Linked DNA regions of Homo sapiens: region 1 is linked to region 2. A link means that fine-mapping ties the variant in region 2 to the expression of a gene that starts in the linked region. Tissue or cell type: whole blood. Region 2 holds a variant in brackets; the other region holds the start of a gene. All regions are shown on one strand. Distances are between the middles of the regions.

Region 1 (5,111 bases), 46 kb after region 2:
CAGCCTCGTTTCTAACCTGGGCCTCCGCAGCAGGCCTCTGACTCCCCTCCCACTCCAGTCCTGACCGTGACCTTCAAGACTCTACCCGGTTCAGCACCGCCGCCCCCCGGGGCTCCTCCCTTCCAGCCCTCCCTACGCTCTGCTCAGGCCTCTGCAAGTGACCCGAGAGCCAGGACCCGGACGGTCTCGATCAGCCAGTCGCCCAGCCCTTGAGCCCTTCCGGGACTGCCCGGAGCCGGCGCTGGGGAATACCGAGTCCCTTGGAGCCGGGTTCGGGGGGCGCCGTGAGCTGGGAGGCGCTCGGAGGAGCCGAGGCCTTGACCACGCCCCCTCCAGCCCCGCCCCGCCAGAGGCGAGCCGCGGGGCCTCCTGGGAGATGTAGTTCCGACCCCTTTACTTAGATTTTTGGTTTTTTTTTTTTAAATCAGTTTTATTTAAGAATTTCCAACAATGACAACTCTTATAAAAAGCATCCAAGCACAGGACACAGAACTGCAGCAAACAGCATTCTTATGGGTAGCTAACAGACATTAGAACTTCTACCCTTCTTTGAGACACCAGAGTTCACTGCTGAACTCTGCTTCCAAGTCCTCCTGCAAAGCACACCACAAGCTCAGTCCATGTTCTCAGCCCATCAGCTTCAGTTCACATTGCCACACTTACATATCAGTAACAGAAGAGAACACACACCATACAGCATTCACAGCAGTTGACAAAGGGGTAGGGGGAGTACAAGTATCATTTCACTTAACACATTCAAATAAAGTGGGTTATCTAAGAACAAAAACTCAAAGTCTTCCAACAGATGTGGATGTCCTTTGAATGCAAAAAACATTCGTACATTATTTGCTATCATTGCTGTCTGCACACTGTCACCAAAGCCGCAGGATTGAGAAACACATCTCGCCAAGTTAAAAAATATCCGTTATGCACCACCAAGTCTCTGCACGTGCTCTCTCCTTTTCTCACTCATACTAGCCTTTCATGCCTCAGCACCACCGTCAATCCCACACAAGGTTTCAAAAGTTCAAACAGCCTTCTAGTTCCATATCACAGCCTTGCGTTCACAGCGTTGATACGACTCTATGAAATAAAGAGTAGCAGATAAAAATGGGACACCCACCGTCAAAGACGCGGCCTGTGATGCGTGATGACGAATTCTTGAATGAGAAGGCATGTAGACAGAAGTGTTCCTATGGCAGAATATTTACAGCACTACTTTCAACCAAGTGCTTCTTCCATAAACATTTGAAATGAGATGAACTGCAGAGATTAAATGAAGGCTTCATATTGTACTTTTGTGTTTGAGGGGAGACAAGTGTTAAAAAACAAAACAAAAGAACCAAACTGTGACACCATGATCTTCTAAAAGGAGATTTTCTTAAGGAAAAAAATCCATATGGTGGGGTTCAAATTAAAACAAGGAATAAAGAATGTAGTTCTAATTCATGGCTTCCATTTTGAACATGCAAAGAACTCACTTGACAAGTCCAGGGATAAAATATTACAGGAGAAACCTTCTGATATCAATTGTAGTGTGTTGGTTTACCAATCAGGCAAACAGCAGTTCACTTTCAACCACTCAATATTTCAACCTTTCATGTAACAAAACTTATAAAATTCCTTTAGCTGTTCCTTTTTCTAAAGAAAAATGTCAAAAATACTACTGAATATACTCCACACTGAAGAAACCAATTTTGAAAATTCTTAGTACATATGTATTTTACAATATACTTACCATGAGTTTAGAAAAATTTGAATTCCAACCATTCTATACCAACCAACCACAACCCCACTGTCTACGTTCCCAGCCAGAAGACTTAGAATCCATGCTTGAGCCAAAGCCGCCATTAAAACCACTGCCCGACCCTGCATTGGATGCTGATCCCCAACCAATTGTTGCACCAAAATTAGAACCACTACAAGAGTTATTTCCAGAACCGAAGGCCTGGTTTGGCTCCCTCTGCATGTTGCCTTGGCTTTGGTTATCATCCGATGGGCCTGGCTGCTTCGCTGGCTGGCTAACACACCCATCGTACACCAACTGCTCTGCAGCACTGCCTGGGGGGCAGCCATCATGGCTGGATTAATGCTGAACGCACCAAAGTTTATCCCACCACCCATATTACTACCTTGATTGTTTCCCAAACCAGCTCCACCCCCTCTACTCTTACCAAATCCACCCTGATTCCCAAAGCCACCTGGATTACCACCAAATCTTCCACTTCTTGCTGTCTATTGCTATTGCGCTTGGGTTCGGCATTGGATATGTGAACGCTGATTCCTTTCATCGAGTCCTCTCCACAAAGAGACCGCGCAATCTGATCATCTGCAAATGGAACAAAGGCAAAGGCCCTGAACGGCTTGGGGACGAAGACATCCATCACATCCCCATACTGAGAGAAGAACTCCCACAGCTCATCCTCAGTCATGTCCTCCGTACGGCGCCCCACAAACACTTTTCTGCTTCTCAAAGGCTCATCTTGGCTTTGCCGCACCATAAGAACGTCTCCAAAGGTACTACAGTACTCTTTCAGGTCCTGTTCAGTTGTTTTCCATGGGAGACCCAACACTATTAAATCGGACTGGTCTTTTCACTTTCACTGCTGATGAAGCTTCTGTCTCACCCATTTTTCTTTTGTTATCTTTCGGATAGTTGACAACATACACCGGATTTCTCCAGCCAGCATCGGGGGCATGCAGAATTCCTTCTACCAGCCGGACACCTCTCATACATTGAGACACCGGATTCCTGCAGCGAAGCCCACACGCCCCTGGAAACTGGGCTGTAACCGTGGACAGCAGCACCGTCCCATCGTCTTCCGATGGTATTTCAATGGGCTCATCGTTCTCATCTTCGGTTACCCGAATATATTCAGACATCTTTTACTTTTCCACTAGGCCGCTGCTGGGAAGCCCGACAGGGACACCGAGGCAGCGACGGACCCAAGCGCCAGTGTTTTTTTGTTTGTTTGTTTTTTGTTTTTTTAAAGAGGCCACCACAAGTTGAGGCGGGACTACAACTCCCAGAGGCCGCCGCGGCCCGGAGGCCACGCCCCTTGGCGGCGAGCTCTGAGCCCTTTGCCGCATTTGACACTCGACATCCTCGTGCTTCTTAAAGCACTTGCCCAACGGTGAGCAACGGCCTCCAACGGTGCCCGAGGGACTCGCGCTGCCCGTTAAGCAGCTTTGCGGTGGCGGAGGCTGGGCTGCCGTCTCTCCGACATCCCGGGACGGAGGAAGAGATGAAGGCTCTGCAGCCCCCGCCGCCCGATTTACGCTTGAGAAAGCGAAGGCGAGAGAGGTCGTCCAGCCCCTGGGGGCCCAGCCCTAGAGAGCGGGGCGCGGGCTGCGGGGCCCGGCGGCCTGGACGGCGGAGCGTTGAAAGCTCCCCCAGGGATAGGAAGTGCAGCCGAAATCAACGATTGAGGTCAGTGAAGGAGCGGACGCTTGAGGCCTTGGAGGGGAAGCAGGTTTCTCCAGGAGGGAACCCGGGCCTCCGCTTTGCTCAGCGCTCCCCTCGCGAATGTGTTGAGCACCTGTTATGTGCTGGGGGTACAGAGGTGAGACTCACAAGGCCCCTGCATTGTCTTTAAGATCAGCAAGACCCCGCAGAGAACCCAAATCCAACGCGCACTGCCCAGAGGCAGACACTGGCATTCCTTGATAGACGGTAGCCAGGGAAGCCCAGGTCTTACTAGATTATTATCAGTACTTGGATTTGAATGTATCTGAGAGGAGGAGGGTTAAGGTTTAAGCTGTGGCTCAGAAGCCCCTCAGCTCTTCGTGGAATCTCCCAGGCTTTTCACTCTTGCATCCTCATGGAAAAATACTGCCCTCCCTGGGAAACCATGCTTTCTGTGCACACCTGCTCTGTTCCCATGTCGCTGTACTACCTATTGACCTGTCAATGGATGATGACACTTGGGGTACTATCCTCTCTCCTCCAGATCTTGCCCCACCTTAACCTTGAAAGAATATTAAATGCGCCCTTAGACGTCAGGAACCATCCCTCAAACCTTGCCATTCCTCTCTGTTGAACCTGCTCCAAATCTTAAGTGCCAACCTCCATCTTATCCACTTTATCCTGGGGAACTTGTCCTCACACCCCGTTGAGGTTTCTTACTTATTGTCCTACTGTTTTCTTCACACTCCAGTTTCTTAAAAACAGTCTTCATTCTCATTTTCTTCATTTCCTCATCACCTGTTTGTCCCTAACAAAATTTCAGTATGGCTACATTTCCTGCCATTCTACTATAGAAAACTTCTGCCAGAGTCTCCAATGAACTCCTGATTGCCGAGTAGACTCTTCAGTTTTCTCACCCGAACTTTGCGGCATTTGATACTCAACATCCTCATGCTTCTTAAAACATTGTTCTTGCCAGAGCACGGTGGCTCACACCTGTAATCCCGGCACTTTGGGAGGCTGAGTTAGGCAGATCGCTTGAGCCCAGGAGTTCAAGACCAGCCTGGGCAACATAGCAAGACTCCATCTCTACCAAAAATGCAAAAAATTAGCCAGACATGGTGGCCCGCACCTGTAGTCCCAGCCACTCGAGAGGCTGAGGTGGGAGTATCACTGGAGCCCGGGAAGTCAAGGCTGCGGTGAATTGAGATCACGCCAGTGTGCTCTGGCCTGGACAATGGGAGTGAGACCTTATCTCAAAAAATTGTTCTCTGTCTAGTCTTCTTGCTCTTCTTGTTCCACCATTCCTTCTCAGGTTCTGGCAGTGGCTCTTCACAACTGGATATTAAATGTTGTCTTTTTTTTTTTTTTTTTTGAGACAGGTTCTCACTCTGTCTCAGGCTGGAGGCTGGAGTGCAGTGGTACGATCATGGCTCACTGCAACCTCGACCTCCCAGACTCAAGTGATCCTCCCACCTCAGCCTCCTAAGTAGCTGGGACTATAGGCGCACATCACCATGCCTGGCTGATTTTTGTATTTTTTTTGTAGAGAGAGATGTTTGTAGTGTTGCCCAGGCTGGTCCAGCAATCCACCTGCCTCACTCCCAAAGTGCTGGGGTTATAAGCATGAGCCACCGTGCCCGGCGAATATTGTCTTCTTAAATATTGTGCCCCACATTTCTTTGCTAGGCCCTCTTCTCTAGCT
Region 2 (5,196 bases):
TATCCTTGAAGATACCGTTTGTCATCTGGATGCACTTAGGCGTTGGACTCTTGTCCTTTGATTGGCAGATTCAGATCTGTCTCTGGTTCAGGATGGTTCTCTTTATGTGTCTCGCTCATTATGGTTTCTGTTTTATTGTTCTCGTCTCTTTCAGAAAGAGCTGTAATCCACAGGTAAAACCCGGCTGTCCTCCATCTCTCTTCTCTTCTCCTTTCCCTTTGCATTTTAAAAGTCTGTCACGCATCTCCTATCACTGAAGCCATTTTCTTTTTATTGATTCTGAACTTTGTCCTTTCTAGTTTTCCATTCTAATGTGGCATTTTCATCTCAGTCAGTGGCCTTATCTCATCCCTCATTACTTGTTTCATTGAATCCATCATTTCTTGAATTCTTAGGATGAAAAGTAGATGGTGTCTTAATTTGCTGCTTCCTCTGTGGCATGAGGGTTGTGTTCAGTTGTCTTTGCTGTGTGTGTTTTCCACAGCCCCGTGTTGGCTTTCTTCTGTTTATTAGTTTGTGAACAAGGCGAGGTCTAGTCGGCCCTGCTGTTCTCCAGACACTGATGTGGGTGGATTCTCCATGAGCCCCGCCTCTCACCAGGCTGTCCTGGAGTGGCTCACCGGCGAATGGGCTCGACCTGGGGAAGGGGATGCTGAAGGCTCTTGTTGGAGCTTAGCCATTCAGTTCCTGGGGCCAGCTGTTGGAATCCGGCACCCTGTATGTGTAGCCCTCAGTATTGCTGGCTGGTTTCTAGCCCTTTCTTAGAGTTGCCCTGTTGGGGAGGGCACCTGGGGGTGTTCAGTGGGTGAAGCGTCTCCAGGAGAACCTCTCCTTCCCACAGGATTTCTGTTCCTGTGTCCGTTCTTCTCCCACAGCTTCCTCACGAAGCATCTTCCTGGTGGTAGAGCTCTTGACTGTCCAGCCTTGGCCATGGCTTGGGCCTTCCATGGCCGGGGGTAGCAGGGATCTCAGCACTAGCCACTTCCTCAGGGGTATTTGGACTCCAGTGCACTCTTCATGCTCCTTCCATCTCAGCGACAAGCAGCCGGACGCACCTTCACTTTGTGGCAAATGATTGGGACCCTTCGGGACTTCTAGGGCTGCTGAAAATGATCCCTCCCCCCGACCAATTGTATGATCCTTGGTCATTTCACGTGGGTACTGGTGGGAAGGAGGTGGAAGGGGAGGCTCTCCCAGAGCTAGATGGGAACTGGAGCATAAGATGTTTCACAAGATTTGGGGTGTGGAATCCAGAAACCCTTCTCTCCCTTTGTTCCAGCTGCCCTGGGAAGGGCCAAACGGATGCCATGCAGAAGTGGAATGCCACACTGGGCCAGAGTTGGGGCTGAGCACAGTGCAGTGGCAGGAAGCAGGAGGCCCCCACACAGCTGAGCCTGGGTGTAGGGTGGGGGTCCCATCTTCAGATGCCGGCAGGCCTGGAATCCAGGGCTGTCATCTGCTACTGTGTGGCCTGGGGTGAGCTACCCACCCCTGTTGGCTGCTCCGTAGAACGATCTCCTGCGCACCATGTAGACCGTGATCCAGAGTTGCTGGGAAGCTGTGTGTTGGGTGCTTAGCATCATGTCTGTAGTCAGCAGCATCACCCCAGAGCCTCACAGCTGTGTTCATTAAGCATGACCACTTGTGTCAAGCAGGGCCTTCATCTGGCTCTCTCCAGTGCCCCGCTTGAGTGGGTGCCTGCTTCCTGCTGGGACTCTGCTGAAAACGCTGTCCTGGGGATGGGGAGACATCACTGGGTGAAGAAGGGAGGACCCGGGATGGCATTTTGGCCTCTCACCTGCTAATCAGTCCCACCCCTCCCTACTCCCTGTCTCTGTTCACCCCCCCTCAGTTTGTGTCCAGGATGATCGCTGGTCTGTCTCTAATTTCAGCCACTCCACCCACCTACCCCAAAGTGCAGAGGTTAAGTTTCTGACCAGCACAGCAGTGCAAGCCTGTCCAAATGCAAGCTGAGTTCCGTGGGCCTGGCACTCAGAGTGCCTCAGCAGCTCCCAACCATTCCCAGTAAATGTGAAGCCACATTGTCCTGGCCCCTCTCCATCCCACTTGTACATGCTTGTGGGGCCTGGGATCCCCGAGCTGCTGGGAGGGTTCCACACCTGCCAGGCCCCTCTGCCCTCTTTACCCGGCAAGCCCTGTCTGTCCCCATGTCTCCTGCTAGCCTTGGCTCCTCCTCCTGTAACTGTGCCGTGCTGTAATGGCCAAGATTTCTGAACCCGGCTCCCCCACCCCACCATCATCTGGGGAAATTTATAAAAGGCAGATCACCTATTCAGAGGGACCATGTGTTTTTCCCAGCACCCCACAGGCCGGGTGTTGATTATCAGTGCTCTTGTCTGCCTTCTGATGAGGCCGTCAGCAGCTCTATGTCGGGCTGAGGCTGCCTCATTCAACCATCTTCCTAATCCATGGCAGATAGGAGCTCTTGTCAATAAGAACAAATAAGTAATGTGATGAACTAACGTGCGTGTGATTGATCCCGATGAAAGGGCAGTTTTGGCTGCGTGTGGTTGGCCTGTAATCTCAACATTTTGGGAGGCTGAGGC[G/A]GGCAGATCGCTTGACTTCAGGAGTTCGAGACCAGTCTGGGCAACATGGCAAAACCCTGTCTCTACCAAAAATACAAAAAATTAACCAGGCATGGTGGTGAGTGCCTGTGGTTCCAGCTACCCTGGAGGCTGAGGTGGGAGGATCGCTTGAGCCCAGGCACTGCATTCCCTGGGCAACAGAGCCAGACCCTGTCTCCAAAGTAGAAAGAAAGAAAGAGAGAGAGAGAGAGACAGAGAGAAGAAAGAAAGAGACTGCAGTTTCATTAGTAACAGAAAGAGTCAAATGGGTGCTCTACCTGATGGCTGCAGCGCCCCTTGTGCGTGTGCTTGTTAATGCGTGACAGCATCCCTCTGTTTGCCAGCTTCGTTCCAGAGCCCAGCATGAATGGATACGCGGAATTTCCGCCCAGCCCCAGTAACCCCACCAAGGAGCCCGTGGAGCCCCAGCCCAGCCAGGTCCCACTGCAGGAAGATGTGGACATGAGCAGTGGCTCCAGTGGACATGAGACCAACGAAAACTGCTCCACGGGGCGGGACTCGCAGGGCAGTGACTGTGACGACAGTGGGAAGGAGCTGGGGATGCTGGTGGAGCCACCGGATGCCCGCCAGAGGTGAGTTCAGCCTCTGGCCAGATGGAGGCTGGGCAGGTTGTTTTCTCAGTGGCTCATTTCTGCTGTGATTTGATTGCTTTTGCAATCTTTAAATCATGATTACCAAGTTTTTCAAGATTTTTGAAAATACCTAAAATGTGCCAGTGTCTGTCCTTCCTCATAACGAGGCCCTGTCGAGTTCGCAGATCCAGTTGCCAACAGACAGGTACTGGGTAGTGTAAGGAGATCTTGGGAGGTAGCAGTGGTGGGTAACCCAGCCAGTGGCTGCTTATACAACACTGGGCAGTTTATAGAAAAGGAACTGGCTCCTGTTATCATGTGTTTCTGTGTCCTGGTACTTAGTTTTTCTGATGTCTGAAGGTTTTATATTCCAGTTTTATCTTAACCTTGTATTTTTAAAAAATTGTCTTACCATGGTATTATCTAGCCTGTTATCACTGGTAGGATGGCAGGGGAAGATGTGTCTGGAGCATACAATTGTCTAAATTTTGCTTTTATTTTTTGTTTTCATAGTCCAGATACCTTTAGCCTGATGATGGCAAAATCTGAACACAACCCATCTACAAGTGGCTGCAGGTAAGGCCAATTAGAACTTCATACATAGAGGTTTTAGAGAAATTGAAAGACTTCTTATTGGAGGTTAGTTTTCTGGGAGTGACGTGGCTTTTTTTAAGCTGTGCTAAAACCCATCTGTGTGGCTATGTGGGTACGAACCCAGCCTCACTCTGGCCTTTCAGACACTGACTGTGTCCCCTCACCGTCCAGAGCCCCCGGGATGTCGCTCCAGTACCTGTAGCTCCTCCCAGCTCTACTCGAAGCCGACTTTGCCTGAGTCTTGGGCATTTTCATCTGGAACATTCTTCACCCTTCGTAGGTGTTTGTAACAAACTTACCCTATGTCAATTTTCATGTCACCTCGGGAGCAGAACCCGGCTCCTTGTCCAGGGCATGTGGGCACTTTGCATTGCCTGAGAAACCTTGATTTCCATCATTCCTTCTGCACCCTCTGTTCCACACAGGCCCATCTTCATCAGCCAGTGCCCCGCTGTCCTGTCTCTCTAACATCTCTGTATCCTCAATTAATGTTTGAAGACCCTTTTCCACAATCCCCTTTTCTCTGTGTTCATGGCTCACTTTTATGTCCCAGGAAGTCACTTTGCTGTCCTCTGTAATCCCATCACTCAGTCCTTCTTTACCTGGGGCAGGGAAGAAGGGCACAGCTTAGTGCACAGTCCACTGCACCAGACTATGGGTCGACCAGTATCCTTTCCTGAGCAAAGCCTAGCTCTAACCCTTCAGGGAAAAGAACACAGTTGGAGGGACTTCTCCAGCATTCAGTTGGGTTAGAGCGGTGACTCTTGACCAGGAACAATTTGTCTCCCAGCGAGAAACATCTGGCAATGTCTGTTGACAGCTCTGATTGTCATACTTGGCCAGGGTCTCCCTGGTCTATTGTGGGTGAGGCCAGGGATGCTGCTAGATGTCCTACAGAGCCCCACCAAGGGCCACCCAGACCAGAACATCTCTAGAGCCGAGGCTGAGAAAATCTACAGAGCCCCACAAAGGGCCACCCAGACCAGAACATCTCTAGAGCCGAGGCTGAGAAAATCTACAGAGCCCCACAAAGGGCCACCCAGACCAGAACATCTCTAGAGCCGAGGCTGAGAAAATCTACAGAGCCCCACAAAGGGCCACCCAGACCAGAACATCTCTAGAGCCGAGGCTGAGAAAATGGGCAAGAGGCACGTTTCTTCAGGAAAGGACACCTAGGAAGCTAACATTTGGCTGCCTCTTTCTTGAATCCTGCAGTAGCGACCAGTCTTCGAAAGTGGACACACACAAAGAACTGATAAAAACACTAAAGGAGCTGAAGGTCCACCTCCCTGCAGACAAGAAGGCCAAGGGCAAGGCCAGTACGCTGGCCACCTTGAAGTACGCCCTCAGGAGCGTGAAGCAGGTGAAAGGTACGTCGGCCTCGCACATCTGCTCCAAACCTATAGAAATATGTTTTAAATCCC

The links. PIP is the estimated chance that this variant, and not a neighbour inherited with it, causes the effect.
Region 1: LINC02610 starts here. The variant in region 2 is fine-mapped to the expression of LINC02610 in whole blood (TOPMed, PIP above 0.99).

What each region holds. Positions count from the first base shown.
Region 1 is chr2:238,229,653-238,234,763 of GRCh38, reverse strand. It overlaps LINC02610 (long intergenic non-protein coding RNA 2610), which reads left to right and starts at 3,087. Exons shown (of 3, transcript NR_026926.1): 1 at 3,087-3,430. It also overlaps the pseudogene TARDBPP3. RefSeq lists silencers at 1-40, 191-320 and an enhancer at 21-522.
Region 2 is chr2:238,275,689-238,280,884 of GRCh38, reverse strand. PER2 (period circadian regulator 2) reads left to right here. Exons shown (of 23, transcript NM_022817.3): 2 at 2,930-3,178; 3 at 3,692-3,754; 4 at 4,988-5,142. The coding sequence starts at 2,949. Among named protein-coding and RNA genes, the nearest start is that of PER2, 10 kb to the left of the region's middle. RefSeq lists an enhancer at 944-1,568. The variant G/A (reference allele first, on the strand shown) is at 2,568.